Linked DNA regions of Homo sapiens. The protein of the gene in region 2 purifies or fractionates together with the protein of the main gene of each other region. This does not show direct contact. Each region holds a gene or a part of one and is shown on either strand. Other genes may lie near its edges.

Region 1 (3,816 bases), on a different chromosome or scaffold from region 2:
CTGCCTTTAAAATTCATATTTATACATTTTAAGACTGTCTCTTTCATTTCTTCTTATTTGCATATTTACTTCTCCTCTCATTAGTAAATTTTTAAAAAGTATAGAATTAGTGCCAAGAAAGTAAGTCTTTACCACTTGATTTTACACTTTTCTGACAGAAGTCAGATGAGAAACATTTAAACCCTACAACATCACAAAAGTTTTACTAACTTACACAATGACAAAGAGATGTTCACTTCAAATTAATACTTAATCTTTCTTAAACATATTATTGTATTAAAACATATACACACATTCTAGGTATAATCAGTGGGAACACATCACAAAAGCTTTAAAAGTTACAGCCATGCCACATGCAATTTTAAACCCCGCCATGCACCTTTCTCAGTATATTCCATGGAGGGCTACATTATTTTCAGAAATGGTGGAAGGAAAATCATAGAAATGCAAATATAAAACACAGAAAAATGGAATTTTTATTTAATAACCCCATCTTTTCAAAATAAAATTCGTATTTTCACTTACGCTCAGAGCATTGTGAAATAATGATTTGTTTCACTAGTTAGACATGTTTCTACGGAAGAACCTCACTATGGGAATGCTAATTAGTAGAGACTAGTCCATTTAAAACTTTCTTAATAATTTGAAATGTAAGTCACCATGGAATAATATAATACTGATTTCTCTGTGCTATAAATCTTCAGTTTAGTATCCTAAAGAGGTCCGGAAGCTGACAGAGAAAACAAGCAAAGCAGCACAGTGAAGCAGGGTCATGCTCCTCACCCACGCACCTGGAGGAACTACGCCAATACCATCATCAACCTCATAATCTGAGATGTCACTATCACTGATTCGCTGAGATCCTGCACAACAGTAAGGCAAAGAGATACTTCTGTGTCTGGTTGGTTTATGAAACGTAAAGAGCACTGTCAAACTTTTTTTAAAAAGTGAATTGCATTATTACTGAAAACTTATGAAGACTAATACAGTAAACACTGAGCTAATTTTAAAAGAAATGTTTGTTCTCTAAGGATAACATTTTATCAGTATTTTTTTCCTCATTACACCAAAGACATATAGAAACAAGGGGACTTCACAGAATAAGATTTTCAGATTAATTCTTTAATTAAAATATTATACTAAAAGCCTTCAGCACAGTATATACAGTACATTGTTTTCTACACAATTAAGTGCTTTCCTCTGCAGTTCAGAGAGAATAGGGCTGAGTGGAAAGGTTCAGAGACATTTCTTGGCTGGAGCTCTATTCAGCCTATATTAATGAAAAAACATCAGGGCCCTTTATAAAATATTTATGTTTAGCTCCCCAAATTAGTCATTATACTTCATTAAACATTAACTTTGAGGAAATTACTGATCAGGGAAGCATCAACATGAAATATTTAATTATGTGAGAAAAATAATTTAGTTCCAGATTACCAAAATGAGGCTTCTTTCAGCTGTTAACTTAGAAATGTAGTTATGACACAAAAATTACTCAATAAGTACAGAAAAAAATAGCTTTTCCCAATCACTAGATGAATAGCAATAAACATACCTTCTAATATTTTAAACAACATTTCTTATGAATAACTATTAAAATATCTATGAACTGGCTGGGCATGGTGGCTCACACCTGTAATCCCAGCACTTTGGGAGGCCGAGCCGGATGGATCACAAGGTCAGGAGTTCAAGATCAGGCTGGCCAAAATGGTGAAACCCCATCTCTACTAAATATACAAAAATAAATTAGCCAGGCATGGTGGCGCACTTCTGTAATCCTAGCTACTCCAGTGGCTGAGGCAGGAGAATTGCTTAAACCCGGGAGGTGCAGGTTGCAGTGAGCCGAGATCACGCCAATGCACTCCAGCCTGGGCAACAGAGTGAGACTCTCTCTCGGTGGGGGGAGAAAAAATCTTTGAACTATAAAGTTATTAAGACTTCACAGGTGGCAACTCACCAGTGATGACAGAAATTATTCCATCAGTCAATAACCAACAGCTCAATTGGCCCTGTGCAAGAATTTTAATTCAGAGGTTTTTGGCTTGCAGCTCTGCAATTACTCTGCTATGCTATCTACATTATTTTCATTGTGAAAATGTAGAAACAGTTTTGCCAAGTTGCTTCATAAAGATGAACAATTTTCCAGTATTTTGATCTCTAATAAAACATTTAAAAAAAACATCTTGAATTATTAATCACTAATTAGATCATTACAGCATAATTACTTTGTGGCAACTAAAAGGACCTTAACCTACTTTGTAGCTTTTTGCTAGAGCTTTCTCCATGAATATGTCGCCTTGGCATGAAAGGTGATGGCTGAGGCAGAGGTAGTGAAGACTCATCATGTGTCTGAAGTTTATACCAATGCGGTTCATCATCTAAAAGCGCTGTCTCCAATTCTATGAGGATCTGAGAGGGTAATTCTCAAATTAAATCAAGTACCTTTATCAAAACATAATGTAATAGTAATCATAATAAATATCACAAAACTTTATTAACTATTTGACTTGAGTTTTTAAAATATACATCACCTCTCCAAGAAATTCACTTTCTTCTTCTTGCACTCTTGGTTGGTCCCACACAGTTATTTCTAACATTCGTTCTCTAAAATCTCTACGATGTACATGTGAATAGACAAAAGTTTGATTCCATTTTGGTTCTAGTATTTTCTTTACTGTTTTGGTCCTCCTTTTACTTTTATCACTGAAAAATAAGTATGTTTTGTAAATGAAAAAGCAAGTACATGCTGCCATCTACTGTAGTTACATGTAAAACTGCCATTGATATTTATATTATTTTAACTAATAACTCATGGAAAGTCTATAAAAAGATAATAGAGTTTAATAATATTCTAACTTCAGTTACAATATAAGCAGTATTGTAATTATAGGGACACATACAAAGGTACATTCTAAATGATGTGTCGCTATCAAAGACTAATATACCTATAAACAAGGTAATAGATTTTTTTAATTGACAGATTATTTTCAAATATTTCCAACACAATTTCCAACACTTGAGGGACTTCTTTTTTCAGAGATAATGTACTTTTATCTCCTCAGAATTATCTATTATATTTTTTAAAAACATCCCAAAAGAGAAAATTCTACCTTTTCTATTAGTACAGATTTTAAGATTTTTTTTTTCTAAAATTATTCACTACCTTCTATCTGGAAGAAAATACATTTTTACATAGGGATTTCGAGGACGTCCATCTACTCTAGCAGGTAGATCTGTTGCTTGCAGAACATTTACAATCAGCTGGTGTCCCACTTTATCATACCACAACTTCACCTAGGAGCAATGAGGAAAGGAATTATTTGTAAAAATCATGAGGCATTACAATTTTACATAAAACAAAATTCAAGTTATATTTAAATGAGGAAATTTTGAATTACAATATAATGCAATTACAGATATTTCTAAAAACACACCAATTTGAAAGCATAAACACACAGAACTTTACTTTTCTCTTTGAGTACTTTAAACATAACCTACAACTGGCAGGCCTTCAGTGTTACTGTATATTCTCACATATCATTTTATAAAATAAAACTAATAATAATTTTTCCAAAAAACTAAGGGAAGAGGGAGACATAAAATCATTATTATTGTTCTTAAATGTTAAAAATAAGAGTTTGAAGATTATATGTGTCTAAATTATTATAGCGTGACTAAATGCTTTCTCTGGTGTCACAGGTAGTTAAAATTAAAAAAAACAAGAGTTTGGATATTAGGAATAAGAAATACAAAGAATTAGAAGAGATCATAAAACATATTTACTGTGGGCCTATTTTATACAGGCACCGTTTAGTA
Region 2 (3,816 bases):
CTCAGAACCTGGCAACAGGCAGAGGGAGCAGGGCCCTAGAGTAGTGCGTGCGTGCGTGCGTGTGTGTGTGTGTGTGTGTGTGTATAAGGGGGGTGGGTGTTGGCCAAAACACAGACCAGGGCGGACCAACCCTTTCCCATTTCCCACTCAAAGGAGGCGGCTCAAGTGGGCAAGGCGTTGAACACAAACGCCAGCACCCCCATGTGTGGCGCGTGCTGGGGGCCGATGACCAGACGCAGGCAGCTCCAGACGCCACCTCCTGCCACTGCTCTAGCCCGGGCCCACCCCGCAGCCCAGTCCCGGCTACTTTAGGCCTGGGGTGAGGTAATGAGACAGAGCATAGATGCAGACGGGGCTGGGAGAAAGAGCTGTGGAAACCAGGGTGAGTAGGCCACGGAAGAAAAGGGGGGCAGGGACAGAGCAAAACATGTACCTAAAAAGGGCACCTAGTGTTCCTCATCTCCACCGAGGACAGGGCTGGAAGCAGCTGAGAAGGGTGCTTGGGTTTGATTTTTAAAAGACTTCCAGCCAGACGGGAAGACGATGGGAAAGAGGACAAGAAGCCTCAAGTTCTCCTCAGACAGGGGCAGAGATCTCTGATAGGACCATTTTTCTCTCCGTAGTCAGGGACTAGGGAAGGGTGGTTCTGCCTGAACACAGGGAAATGGGTGTGATTACTGCTTCAGAACCTGCCTGAAGAGTCGTCTGTGGGCCCCTGCCCACTAAAGGTCTCCGATTCCTACTCAGGAGCCTGGGTCTTCCTGCATATGCCTTGCACCCCTTTCCCACTGCAGCCCGTGGGCAGGGGTATGCATGTGGGCACCCCCTAGCTGCCTGGCTCCCTAATCATCACCATCCATAGTGCCAAGGTCCAAGGATATCAATATAAGTTCCACTCAAAGTGCTGGAAGCCCACCTTCAGCCATGGAGGTGGCAAGAACTAAGCCCAGGGTCCAACCTCCCAGCCCAGGATCCCAGGAGCTAGCTCTCCGTGCTAGCTCAGAGTACAGTCAGAGTACCTCACCAAGGCCTAAGGCCAGTGCAAGGCAGAGCAGAGACTCGAGACACAGCTGTCGCACTTCAGAGCCTTGCTTGGTTTTCCTCCTTGTCACACACCTCCCCTGAGTTTCACAGATGTGCTCAACCCAGGCAGCGCTGTCAGGCCCTGGTGGGGGGCTGAAGTTGATGGGTGTGGGTTGAAAATGCAGACATCCAACACAGCTTCCACAGACGGAAGGAAGGTACCTGAACCTCTGACTATGCCCATATCATTCCCCTGACACCCCTTCCCCTTTCCCTTTCCCTTTCCCTTTTCCCTTCAGGAGGACACAGCTGGCTGAACCACCCTCTTCTCAGCAGTTCCCAGCACCAAGCTGAAAGGGGCCTTAGAGGGACAACCTCAAATTTTACAAATAAAAAAGTGGGACCCAGAGAGAGAAGGTGACTAGCCCATGGCCACTACTTCTACGGCAGCCCATTTCTGGCCTCCTCTAATTGTTGGAAAATCGTAGTAACACTGACTTTGAGGAGTGCTCCTCTTGGAGTGAGACCAGGTTTCTCCATGAGACTGCTCTGGACACTGGTTCCTTGAGTAGCCACAACTGCAAGAGGGCCACGACAGGAGAGGATTTGCTGACTCCGTCCTGCCCCCTCTTCTCACCAGGGACAAAGAGACAGAGACTAGACAGGCCTCAGCTAAGACAGCCAGAACCAAAGAGCCTCTATCCCCAAAAGGGGTGGTTCCTGCACCCATCCATCTACCACAACTAAGAACCTTGATGTTCCTTCATCCCCATCCAGCCTTGGGCTATGGGCAAGCCACCCATCCAGAGAGGCTGGGCTTTTGCTATCACCGAAAAGACTAAGGTACAGAGTGGGCAAGGACCAGCTCCAGCCCTGGACCAAAAATAGGATGAAGATTTTGCCCTGACCCTCATTCCTAAACCCTGAAAAAGGCTGTCCTTGGGTGACAGTGCTGCCCAGGAGGCCAGAGAGAACAGCTGTATCTTGGTGGGCTGAGGGGTGGGAAGGGCAGAGCAGGGAGCCCAGGAGCTGGCACCAGGTGCCCCACCCCCGCCCTGTTAACCAGGCATTCTCCCAGGACAGCCCCAGAGATGAGCTCACCATCCTCATAGCCCCAGGGTGGGGGCAGGATCCTTCTCCTCACTGGGCTGAGTGGCAGAGGAGGGGTGGGATCCTGGCCATGCTTGTGTCATCCAGGCATCTAGGCTTCCAGAGCAGCTTCTCACCAGCAGACCCCAGTGCAGGGTGCACCGCAGGGGAAGGGCCCACAGACTGGGCTCCTGGCCAGGATACCTGAGCTTGCATTCTACCTCAAAAGCAGTTGGGGAAGCCAGAGCCAAGCCCCTCTCCACCTACGTCCTGAATTTCCCTCAGTCTAAGGCTGGGGGTGAGGCCGAGGACCTCTAAATCCGCAAACACACCAAAATACCCACCCATACGCATACACACCCACACTCTGTTCCCCCTCTGAAACCTGGAATCACTCCTGCCTGCCCCACCCAGCTCCACCCACCCTGGCTAGGCAGGTTCTGTAGAGACCTGCTCCGCTGTCTCTCTGGCACCCCCACCCCCATCCCAGCTCCCAGAAGGTACCTGCCCCCCAACACAGCACACAAAAGCAGACACGTGTGCACATTCATGTCCCATAGCACCCCATTCCCTAGCCTTCCCCAGACCCATTCCTAGTCCGTCTTGAAGAGAACACTGGGGGTGGAAAGGCTGCAGGAGAAAAGGTGAGTAATGCCCCTGGCATCTGTCCCAGGTGGGGGCCGGCGGGAAGACGGGACACTAAGCTGGTGGGAAGGCAACCAGGGCTTCTGGATTCTCCATTTAATTTTTACCAACAGGCAGGCCCCACAATTTCCACCACCAGGCTTTGAGCTGCTTCCTCCCTTGGCCTAGGCAGAGAACTGGCCCGTACCTGCCCACCAGGTGAGCTGTGGAAGAACCAAGAAGGAAAGCAGGCAGCTTGAGGTGTCTTCAGGGAGAGGGTGGACAATGGGAGGTGGGTGAGTTGTGCTGACCCGTAAGTCAGTGAGTGTCCTGTACACTCCAAAAACAAATGCCCCCCTCTTCCTAGCCTGCTGCTCGAGGTAGGCCCCAACTGTCCCTGGCCCCAAAAGACCTTCAAAGCCTGCTCACCCAGCCCCTGCCCTGGGGTGCAAAGATGTGAAAAGCAGCTAGTTGGGAAGGGGAAGTTAGCCAACCTCGGGCTTGCTGTGGATGGGGAGAGTTGAGCTGTGAGGATGGAGTGTGAGGGAAGAACATATGGGGGCACTGTCAGCAAAGGCTGGATTGTAGGAAAGTGGTAGAGTGGGCCTCAGGGTGTGAGATGCAGTGTGACTGGGGATGAGGGTGGCAGGGCTGGGTATCCCCATCCTGAGAACCTCCTGTTGCCTCAGCCCAATGCCTTGGATCTGGCAACTTGGCCAGTTCTTATCTAGAAAACCAGATCCAGCTGAAAGGCCCAAGTACCAGCCGGCCTCCACCATCGCGACCACCCCCCTACCTGAGATTCTCACTCTTTGCTGAAAATTCTCAACTCTCCCATCCCTTATATCTGCCACCTCCATTCCTGAAGTAAAGCAGGTGTCAAAATGCATGTTTTTGTTCACAGTCTGTTGTTTTTTAAGTGACTGCATTCACACTTCGGGCTCAGCACCTGTTCCTATCTAAACCCTACTTACCCTAAAAAACCAGACCCCCTGGGCCGGGCGTGGTGGCTCACGCCTGTGATCCCAGCACTTAGGGAGGCCGAGGCAGGTAGATCACCTGAGGTCAGGAGTTCCAGAC

Evidence for each region.
Region 1: the proteins of VANGL2 (region 2) and RIMS1 purify together in Homo sapiens (co-immunoprecipitation; one large-scale study listed by IntAct). This does not show direct contact.

The regions. Positions count from the first base shown.
Region 1 is NC_000006.12:72,249,808-72,253,623, reverse strand, and holds part of RIMS1 (regulating synaptic membrane exocytosis protein 1), read right to left. Parts: intron 3,295-3,816; coding exon 3,164-3,294; intron 2,704-3,163; coding exon 2,532-2,703; intron 2,410-2,531; coding exon 2,256-2,409; intron 864-2,255; coding exon 792-863; intron 1-791. UniProt on the Homo sapiens protein: Rab effector involved in exocytosis. May act as scaffold protein that regulates neurotransmitter release at the active zone.
Region 2 is NC_000001.11:160,406,943-160,410,758, reverse strand, and holds part of VANGL2 (vang-like protein 2), read right to left. Parts: intron 2,956-3,816; exon of another isoform or gene 2,871-2,955; intron 2,757-2,870; exon of another isoform or gene 2,504-2,756; intron 2,304-2,503; exon of another isoform or gene 2,125-2,303; intron 1-2,124. UniProt on the Homo sapiens protein: Involved in the control of early morphogenesis and patterning of both axial midline structures and the development of neural plate. Plays a role in the regulation of planar cell polarity, particularly in the orientation of stereociliary bundles in the cochlea.